Regions from separate parts of the Homo sapiens genome. Here region 2 is reported to be linked to region 1. The links are microRNA targets in miRTarBase. Many come from high-throughput screens and were not tested one by one. Region 1 holds a microRNA gene; the other region holds the end of a gene's coding sequence.

Region 1 (4,148 bases):
GCTATTTGGGAGGCTGAGCTGGGAGGATTGCTAGAGCCCAGGAGGTTGAGGCTGCAGTGAGCTTTGATCTTACCACTGCACTCCTGCCTGGGAGACAGAACAAGACCCCATCTCAAAAAAAAAAAAAAAAAAAAGAGATGGCAATGGCGGGCCGTCTGGAATGGCTGCTGTCATCACACTGGCTGCAGCAGGGAGGCACGGCCAGGGCTGCATGCTCCATGTAGCCAGTGGGAGCTGGGGACAGTGGGAACCCCGCCCTCCTGGGAACCACTGCAGCTGCCAAACCACAGCTGATCCTGCTTCATGGAGCAGGTGGGGGCCCCCGCCATCCCCCATGCAGCTGCAGCTGCCTAAACTGCAGCTGTGGACCCAGGCATCCCTGCAATCTTGGGGGCCCGGGAAGGCCCCCCGCCCCACCCTTCAGGCTCAGAAGTGTCTGCTCCCACTGCCTGGCTTCTCCCTCCTCTTGGCGCCCACTCTGATCTTAGAGCAAAGTTGGTGCTGAGCCTGGGTGCTGTCGCAGCCTGGCTGGGTGTGGGCATGCTTGGGGCAGTGCTGACACACTAGACCCCTGCTGCCTTGGCCCCCTCTGGACTTTGGGCACTGACTAGCATGGAAGGAAAGCCAAGGGGAAACTGAGGGCAGCTCGGCACTGGCCTGCAGACGCTCCTTGGCATGAACAGCCTGGGCACCATGAACAGCAGCAGGAGACAGACAGGCTCCTGGGTGGAAGGGGATGGGTCCCTGGTGAGGCCCTACCTTCAAGCCAGGGAGGGCCTCAAGGCTGGGGGCCAGGCTGCCAGTCCCACACACCAGAGTGGGAACTTATGGTGTATTTTCTGGGCTTGCCTATAGCCACCCATGGACCAATCAGTATGCACTTCCTCCTCTCTGAGGCTCATGAAAGCTTCAGGCTCAGCCAGAGCTGGGCAGACATTGGATGACCAGCTGCCGAGAGGAGCTACCCGCTCCAGGGCCTCCTCTCTGCTGAGAGCTGCAGAGATGGCAGAACAACTTGCCTGCAGAAAGGAGCTTCCCATTCCAGGGTCTTCCCTCTTCTGAGAGCTGGAAAGTCGACAGGATGACCTGCCTGCAGAGAGGAGCTTCCCATTCCAGGGTCTCCTCTCTGCTAGCAGCTGAACACTCATCAGGACACCCTGGCTGTGGAAAGGAGCTGCCCCCTGAGGGAGGCTCTGCAGGAGGCTGAGCTGTTCTATCGCTCAGTAAAGCTCCTCTTCGTCTTGCTCACTCCCCACTTGTCTGCATACCTCATTCTTCCTGGTTGCAGGATAAGAACTTGGGACCCATCAAATGGTGGGGCTGAAAGAGCTGTAACACAAACAAGGCTGAAACATGCCCCTTGCTTGCCATGATGCAGGTGAAGGGAAGGAAAGAAGAGCTGCGGCCCTCTGGGGAACCCAGACCTGGGAGCTCCCCAAGCTGGAGCTGTGACTCCCTTTTCGGGGCCCTGTGGTTCCTGGCATCTCGAAGCTTCTGGGTGCCACCGTGTTCCCCGGTGCCAGCTGTGGAAGCTGCTTGTGGTGTACTTGGTCTAGCCACAACCTCTCAGAGAGCTGGCGCCCATGCTGGCACCTGGAGCTGCTCACCCCGCTGCAGCAGCCGGCATGTCTGACTGTGTGCAGTGGCCAGACCCCATGTTCACTCACACACCCTTCACTGTTCCATGCCTGACTTGCCCTGGGCAGATGTGGAACCCAGGCTGGTAATGTGAGCTGAGTGCTGCCTGCCAGGAGGAGTGAGTGAAACAAGCCCAGTGGGCCTGAGCAAAACTTGGGCAAAGGTGCCACCAGCCACAGAGGTTTCCGGCCAGAAAATGACACCCCAAAGATCCTGTAACACCATCTCAAAAAAAAACAAAAAACAAAACCCAGCAACAAAAGCCTGTGAATTCTACCATCTAGAGACAATTGCTGCTAGTGTTTGAACAGATCATCTAGCCTTACTCACCTTAACTGATGGGATGCTCATTACCTGTCAGCACGGCACACTGCATCATTGTCAGCTTGGACCCTGAGAATGCTTTTCTTTAGATAGAGAGGCTCTGTCTCTCCCAGACTGGAGACCAATGTGTTCAGGCCTGGGCTGACCACATCTGTCTGCTTCTTCTCATGAGCATGTTTTTGTTTGTTTGTTTGTTTTCTGAAAATTTTGCCAGAGGCAGGAGGAGGAAAAGAGGAGGAGGAGGGAGGAGATAAGGGAAGGCTGTTGAAGTGGGCAGATGAAGGATGGTCTAGAGCCAGGGTTTTTGAGCTTTGGGGACTTCTTTTTCATTTGCAATCTTGTGTGGCATCTGATGTATGTCAAACAGATAAAAATGGGGATACTGGCTTGAAGGGTGGGGGCCCAGAGCTCCCCCTGACAGCCCCTCCCATGCTCCCTGGATTCAGAAAGTTCGTGGAGCTGGAATCTCATCTGCTCAGCCCATACCTAACTCACAGTGTGACCCTGGGCAAGTTATCTCATCTTTCTGAACCCCACTTTCTCCATCTACCAAGATGAGGGAGTGGGTGGGAGGTGGGAAGGCTGCCCCAAATGGCCTCTAACATCCCTTCCAGTCTCCTCCTCCTCCTCCTCCTTCTTCTTCTTTTGAGACAGAGTCTCATTTTTTTGCCCAGGTGGGAGTGTAGTGGCTGGATCTCAGCTCACTGCAACCTCTGCCTCCTGGGTTCAAGAGATTCTCCTGCCTCAGCCTTCCAAGTAGCTGGGATTACAGGCACGCATGCACCACCATGCCCAGCTAATTTTTGTATTTTTAGTAGAGACGGGGTTTTGCCATGTTGCCCAGGCTGGTCTCAAACTCCTGACCTCAGGTGATCTGTCCATCTCGGCCTCCCAAAGTGCTGGGATTACAGGCGTGAGCCACCGCGCCCAGCCCAGTATCCATCTTCTTCTTCTTCTTCTTCTTCTTTTTTTTTTTTTTTTTTTGAGACAGTCTCACTTTGTTGCCCAGGCTGGAGTGCAGTGGCTCGATCTCAGCTCACTGCAACCTCTGCCTCCTGGGTTCAAGAGATTCTCCTGCCTCAGCCTTCCAAGTAGCTGGGATTACAGGCGTGTGTGCACCACCACGCCCGGCTAATTTTTGTATTTTTAGTAGGGACGGGGTTTTGCCATGTTGCCCAGGCTGGTCTCAAACCCCTGACCTCAGGTGATCTGCCCATCTCGGCCTCCCAAAGTGCTAGGATTACAGGTGTGAGCCACCGCGCCCGGCCCAGTATCCATCTTCTTTGACTGCATTGCGTCAGCCCTGCTTGCCTGCCAGAGGAGTTAGAAACATGACATGCCCGAGGCAGAAACGCCAGCCCTGCGTGCCCTATTTTACTCTGAAGACACAAAGGACCAGAGACAAAAAAAGACTTGCCCGGGTCACACAGACAGGGGCAAGAGTTGGCAAGAGGAAAAATCAGATACTGTGAAAAGCTTCTCAAAGTCTAGTTTTCAAAATATTGAATACCCAGTTCCTATAGAAATACAGTGTGGGAATGTGTCAGTGTCCTCTTGTAGGTTGTTAATGGAGGAACCAGCTGGGTGACAAAGCTAGTTCAATGGATATGGAAAAAAATATATATGTATACCTATATATGGAGACAGAGAGAGTCAGTTAAAACAACAAGAATTCTGGAATATTCATAAAATTGCTAAATTAGATACAAAACTGGTTAGTGTTCTATAGGGCAATAAAATCATCATGTTGGGGCTATCTTCTCTATTGAAAAGAAATCATTTGCATCTCTACTAGACAAAAATAATTTGCAACTTAACAGTTTTCTACCAGTTAACAGCTATCTTTACTGAATCTGGGCTCTAATCAATAGTAAATAATAAGTCAAGCCAAGTGACATTCCCCTAGAGTGTCAGATGACCCTTAGCAGGGTTTGTTAGATACAGCTCTCATTTGACTTTGAAAGGACACCGGTTATCTATTTGCCTTATTTCCAAGTGTTGGATGATTTTACTTATCAGGCTGTTGCAAGAGTATAAACACTTCCCAAGAAATAAAAGACATCGATACTAATGCGCATATCATTAGTGTGAGAAATAAAAGGGTCAGCAATGGCCCTGTGCATGTCACAACAGGGACACCTTCAGGCGGAGAGGAAGGGCATATTCTTCCATTTCTCCAGAGCCCA
Region 2 (4,000 bases), not on the chromosome of region 1:
TTTCCAGTGACTTGCAATCCAGGCTGTTCTCAGCGTTTTGAGTTTAAAACCTGGGATCCTGACTAAGCCTTTGACTTAAGGGTTGCTTGCTTGCCCTCCAAATGTCCTTTCTCAGAGGGGCCAGCTAACCCGTGCAGAACCAGCACTAAGGTGGACAGCAGACAAGAGGGCAAGCCTCTAGTGTACCAAGTGCTTCCTACAAAGACGCAAGGTGTGCTCTGAGCCACAGATGGGCAAACCCTGGTGCTTTCCTTCATCTCCCACGAACTCAAGGGTTTTCCAGGTGTAGCTAACAGTTGCCACATCACACAGACCTCGAGTTTCTGGTAAGACTGCTGGTTGACATCAGACCCAACCCATGAAGGCTGGAAGGCAGCAGGCATTTGCTAAGGCAGCTGATCCAGGCAATCGTTCTGCTGGCCAAGAAGTTAAACTATTTTGAGCATTAGAATGGAGGAAATCCGGTCAGCCAAGTGCAGAGTTCAGACTTCGCTAAGGGCTTGTTTTTCTTCAGCATTTACTTGAAGATTAATGTAGGATGACAGGCTCTCCTGGCTGTCCTACCATCAGCTCTGCCTTGCACTGTGGTCGTCAACTTTCCTCAAATCAAAAACAGGCAGGTACAGGTAGTGGGCTCACAACGTTTGACCTCGACTGGTTTTTCTAAGTTATTTTGTACATTTTTCAGCAGCAAAACCAAACTGGGTCTTCAGCTTTATCCCCGTTTCTTGCAAGGGAAGAGCCTTTATACAATTGGACGCATTTTGGTTTTTCCTCATTGAGAATTCAAATCCTCTTTTGTATTGTTTCTACAATAATTTGTAAACATATTTATTTTTACCTGCTTTTTTTTTTTTTTTTAATTTTCAGGTCAAGTTTTTTATACTGCACTTATTTGTCAAAATAAAGATTCTCACATATGCCGGTTATCTCGAAACTACTACTTTGTATTTAATGAAAGCTAGCTCTTTATTCCAGTTTCCAAAGAGGGACTTAAAATAGAAAGTTTAGTCAGGTGGGACTCAAGACCTGGGCAATATGTCCATCCTGGTAACTACACCCATGGGGGCTTAACTTTTAGTGTAGAGGGTCTTTGGTGAAATAACTAACTGGCAGATGAATGGGCCCTTGCTAAGACTAAAAACCAAAGCTTGCTTCCTCTTGGAGCAAAAGCATTTTAGCCGACATGATGTAAGACTGTAGCCAAGCTGAAACAATGAAAAGCAGAGGAAACTTCCTTCCCTATGAAACAGGTAACAAAACACAGTGACACCAGCAGCCCTCTCATCCCATTTATTAAAGAAACAGTAAGAAAAGATACAATGCAGGAAAACCACCAACCATCCTTGCACACCAGGCCGAACAAAGCACAGTGATTTCTTCCCTTCATCCCCCACCCCCACCCTAATTCCCATATTCCCATCCACATCAGTTTAAATTTTGAGGTTCTTTGATTGATTGGGAGTACCAGTGAAGAGGGAGTTGGATGAGTAGAGGGGCCTTAAATCTGGCCACCTCTAAGTCCCAGGAGAAGGGAGCTGCAGGCCCAGTCAGTCAAGCAGAAACTGCATTCGGTGGGTCTTTCTTTGAAGTGGTTGTCCATCTCCCTGTTCTGTGTTCAAGCCCCCAGGGAAAGGTATGGCAGTAGAGGATGACCAGGTCCAAGCTGCCCAGGTCAGAGCTACGGAAGCATGGTCCGTTCACCAACGCCACGTTTCTAGAGAGCAGTGAGCTGATTCTCCAATGGTGAGCAGGGGACTACATGTGAACTGGGACCTGCAGGCCAATGTATCCCTGAGGAAAAGTCCACAAGAACAATTCAAGAAACTAGTAAGAAACAATGGGCAGAAAGCTGTGGGACGAAAGCACAGCAGGCTTCTGGGAGGCTGGAGATCCTTTCTCTCAAGGGCAGGATTATTCCCACCTGCCACAGTTCACATGCCACAAATAACATCTCACCTTCAGTCAAGAAAAACGCAAAGGAAAAAGATGGCTCATTTGAACTTGAGCCCAAGCTATGTTCTTCAGACTGTAGCTCCACAACTACCCTTTTACCTAAGACAGCCCCTGCCAAGAACCACAGTGCCTAGAAACCAAGGTGGTCCTGGAGGGAAAATGGTGTTTAAGGGGGCAACATTCCATTTGGGTACATTGCAGCCATTGGACCCCCTGGTCTGGGGAAAGCAGCTGGGTTTGTGCCAGGGAGGCTCCCCACTCTAGGAAATGGGACGAAACTCTTGCCTGCAGGGCCATTCATCCTTGGAAAGGAAGCTGGGTTGAGACCCAGGGTCCCAGTTGGCCTTGTGAAAGGAGCTGGGTTGATACCCACAGGGCCAGCTGGAGAAGGGCCCAGATGCCCGGCAGCTGGCCTGGGGAAAGTAACTTGACCAGGGCCTAATGGGCCAGTAGACCTTGGGAAGGTAGTTGGACTTGGACCCTGCAGGCCAGTGGCCCTTGGGAAGTTAGCTGGGTTGGGGCCAAGTGGCCCAGAGGCTCTTGGGAAAATGGTTGGATTTGAGCCCTGGAGGCCAGCGGACCTTTGGAAGGTAGCTGGGTTTGATGCCAATGTGCCAGAAGACTGAGAAAAGGCAGATGAACCTGCTCCCCTGGGAAAGGGATTGGCATTTACCCCCATGGGGCCAACTGGCCTTGAGAAATGAGCTGAATTAGGGCCTATGGGGCCAGGAGCCCTTGACATGGGAGATGGATTTGGCCCTGGAAGGCCAATTCCCCGAGAGCTAGGACCCGAGTTTGGGCCCATGGGGCCAGGTACTCTTGCCATGGAGGATGGGCTTGTGCCCATGTTTCCAGAAGCCTGTGAGAAAGAAGCTGAATTTGCTCCTAAAAGACCTGCTGCTCTTAGAATGGGGGCAAGATCGAGGCCTTGAGGTCCAGCCATTCTTAAGTTAAGACCAGATCCTGTGCCCAAGAGGCCACCTGCTCTGGCATCTAGATTAGGGCCTGGGCCCAGGCCACTTGGTCTTGGGTTGGGCCCAAGGCCTGGGCCTGGAAACACACCTGACCTGGGGGCAGGGTTTGTCCCTAAAAAGCCTGATCTCAGATTGGGGTTTGGTCCTGGGCCCAGGCCAACTGGCCTAGGATTGGGAGGACCATTCCCAGAGGTTAACAGAACACCGGCTCTCAGGTTAGGTCCAGATCCAGGGCCCATGGGACCACCACCTCTGGGGTCAGGACCTGCTCCCAGGAGACCACCTGCCCTTGGGTTGGACATAGGACCTGGTCCTGGGAGACCCCCTAACCTGGGGTTAGACAGAGGCCCTGGGCCTGGCAGAGCCCCTGTCCTAGGGTTTAGGGTGGGGCCTGGGCCTGGGCCTGGCCCCAAGAGGCCACCAGGCCTTGGGAAAGAAACTGCACCTGTGCCAGTGGGATTCATCCCTCTTGGAAAAGAAGCCATACTTGGGTCACGAGCACCAGCCGGGAAAGGTGCTGGATTTGAAGCCAATGAGCCTGATGAAGCTGGAAAAGGAGATGGGTTCCTTGGAAATGGGGTCAGATTTCCACCAAGAGAACCGGCCGCCATAAGGAAGGGATCCGAGTTCACACCCAGTGGGTGGCCTGTGTTCAGAACAGGACCCCCCTGTGGTCCCAGGGAACCGTCGAGCCGTCCTCGAGGTGGCAGCGGAGCACGAGTCCAAGGAGTTGGCCGCTCTCTAGGGAAAATCCGAGGTTCTTTCATACTTTCTTGGGGACGCTGGTGATAATGGGCTTGGGGCGGGTTTTGAAAAGGATCTTGTCTTTGATGAGTGCTGTCACCAGGTACCGGGTGCCAGTCTCGCGGCCAAGCTCATCACAGTCCTGATCCCCAGGAGTGTGTTTGACAAGGACTGCAAAAGGTTTCTCCAGGTGGATGATTTTCCCATACAGGATATGATGCCCCACGATCAGCACAGGGATTCCCTTTGGCAGAACAAGAACGAGATTCCTGAGGTTCCGGGGCAAGGCCATAACACTCAGGCGCCTCCTAAAGCTGCTCTTGGCA

The links. The annotated mature microRNA hsa-miR-6127 reads UGAGGGAGUGGGUGGGAGG and lies in region 1 at 2,518-2,536, shown strand. An mRNA with a match to its seed (bases 2 to 7 or 8) in the 3' UTR can be bound and repressed. Matches are read on the target gene's strand: a 7mer-m8 pairs with bases 2 to 8, a 7mer-A1 pairs with bases 2 to 7 and ends in A, and an 8mer does both.
Region 2: miRTarBase lists CHTF8 as a target of hsa-miR-6127. Seed matches in the 3' UTR shown: 7mer-m8 at 1,476-1,482.

Annotation. Positions count from the first base shown.
Region 1 is chr1:22,631,716-22,635,863 of GRCh38, reverse strand. It overlaps MIR6127 (microRNA 6127), which reads left to right and starts at 2,498; the gene lies at 2,498-2,606.
Region 2 is chr16:69,116,732-69,120,731 of GRCh38, forward strand. It overlaps CHTF8 (chromosome transmission fidelity factor 8), which reads right to left. Exons shown (of 4, transcript NM_001039690.5): 4 at 1,279-3,918. The coding sequence ends at 3,694. It overlaps HAS3 (hyaluronan synthase 3), which reads left to right. Exons shown (of 4, transcript NM_001199280.2): 4 at 1-929. It overlaps DERPC (DERPC proline and glycine rich nuclear protein), which reads right to left. Exons shown (of 3, transcript NM_001002847.4): 3 at 1,279-3,918. The coding sequence starts at 3,697. The coding sequence ends at 2,123. Among named protein-coding and RNA genes, the nearest start is that of HAS3, 13 kb to the left of the region's middle.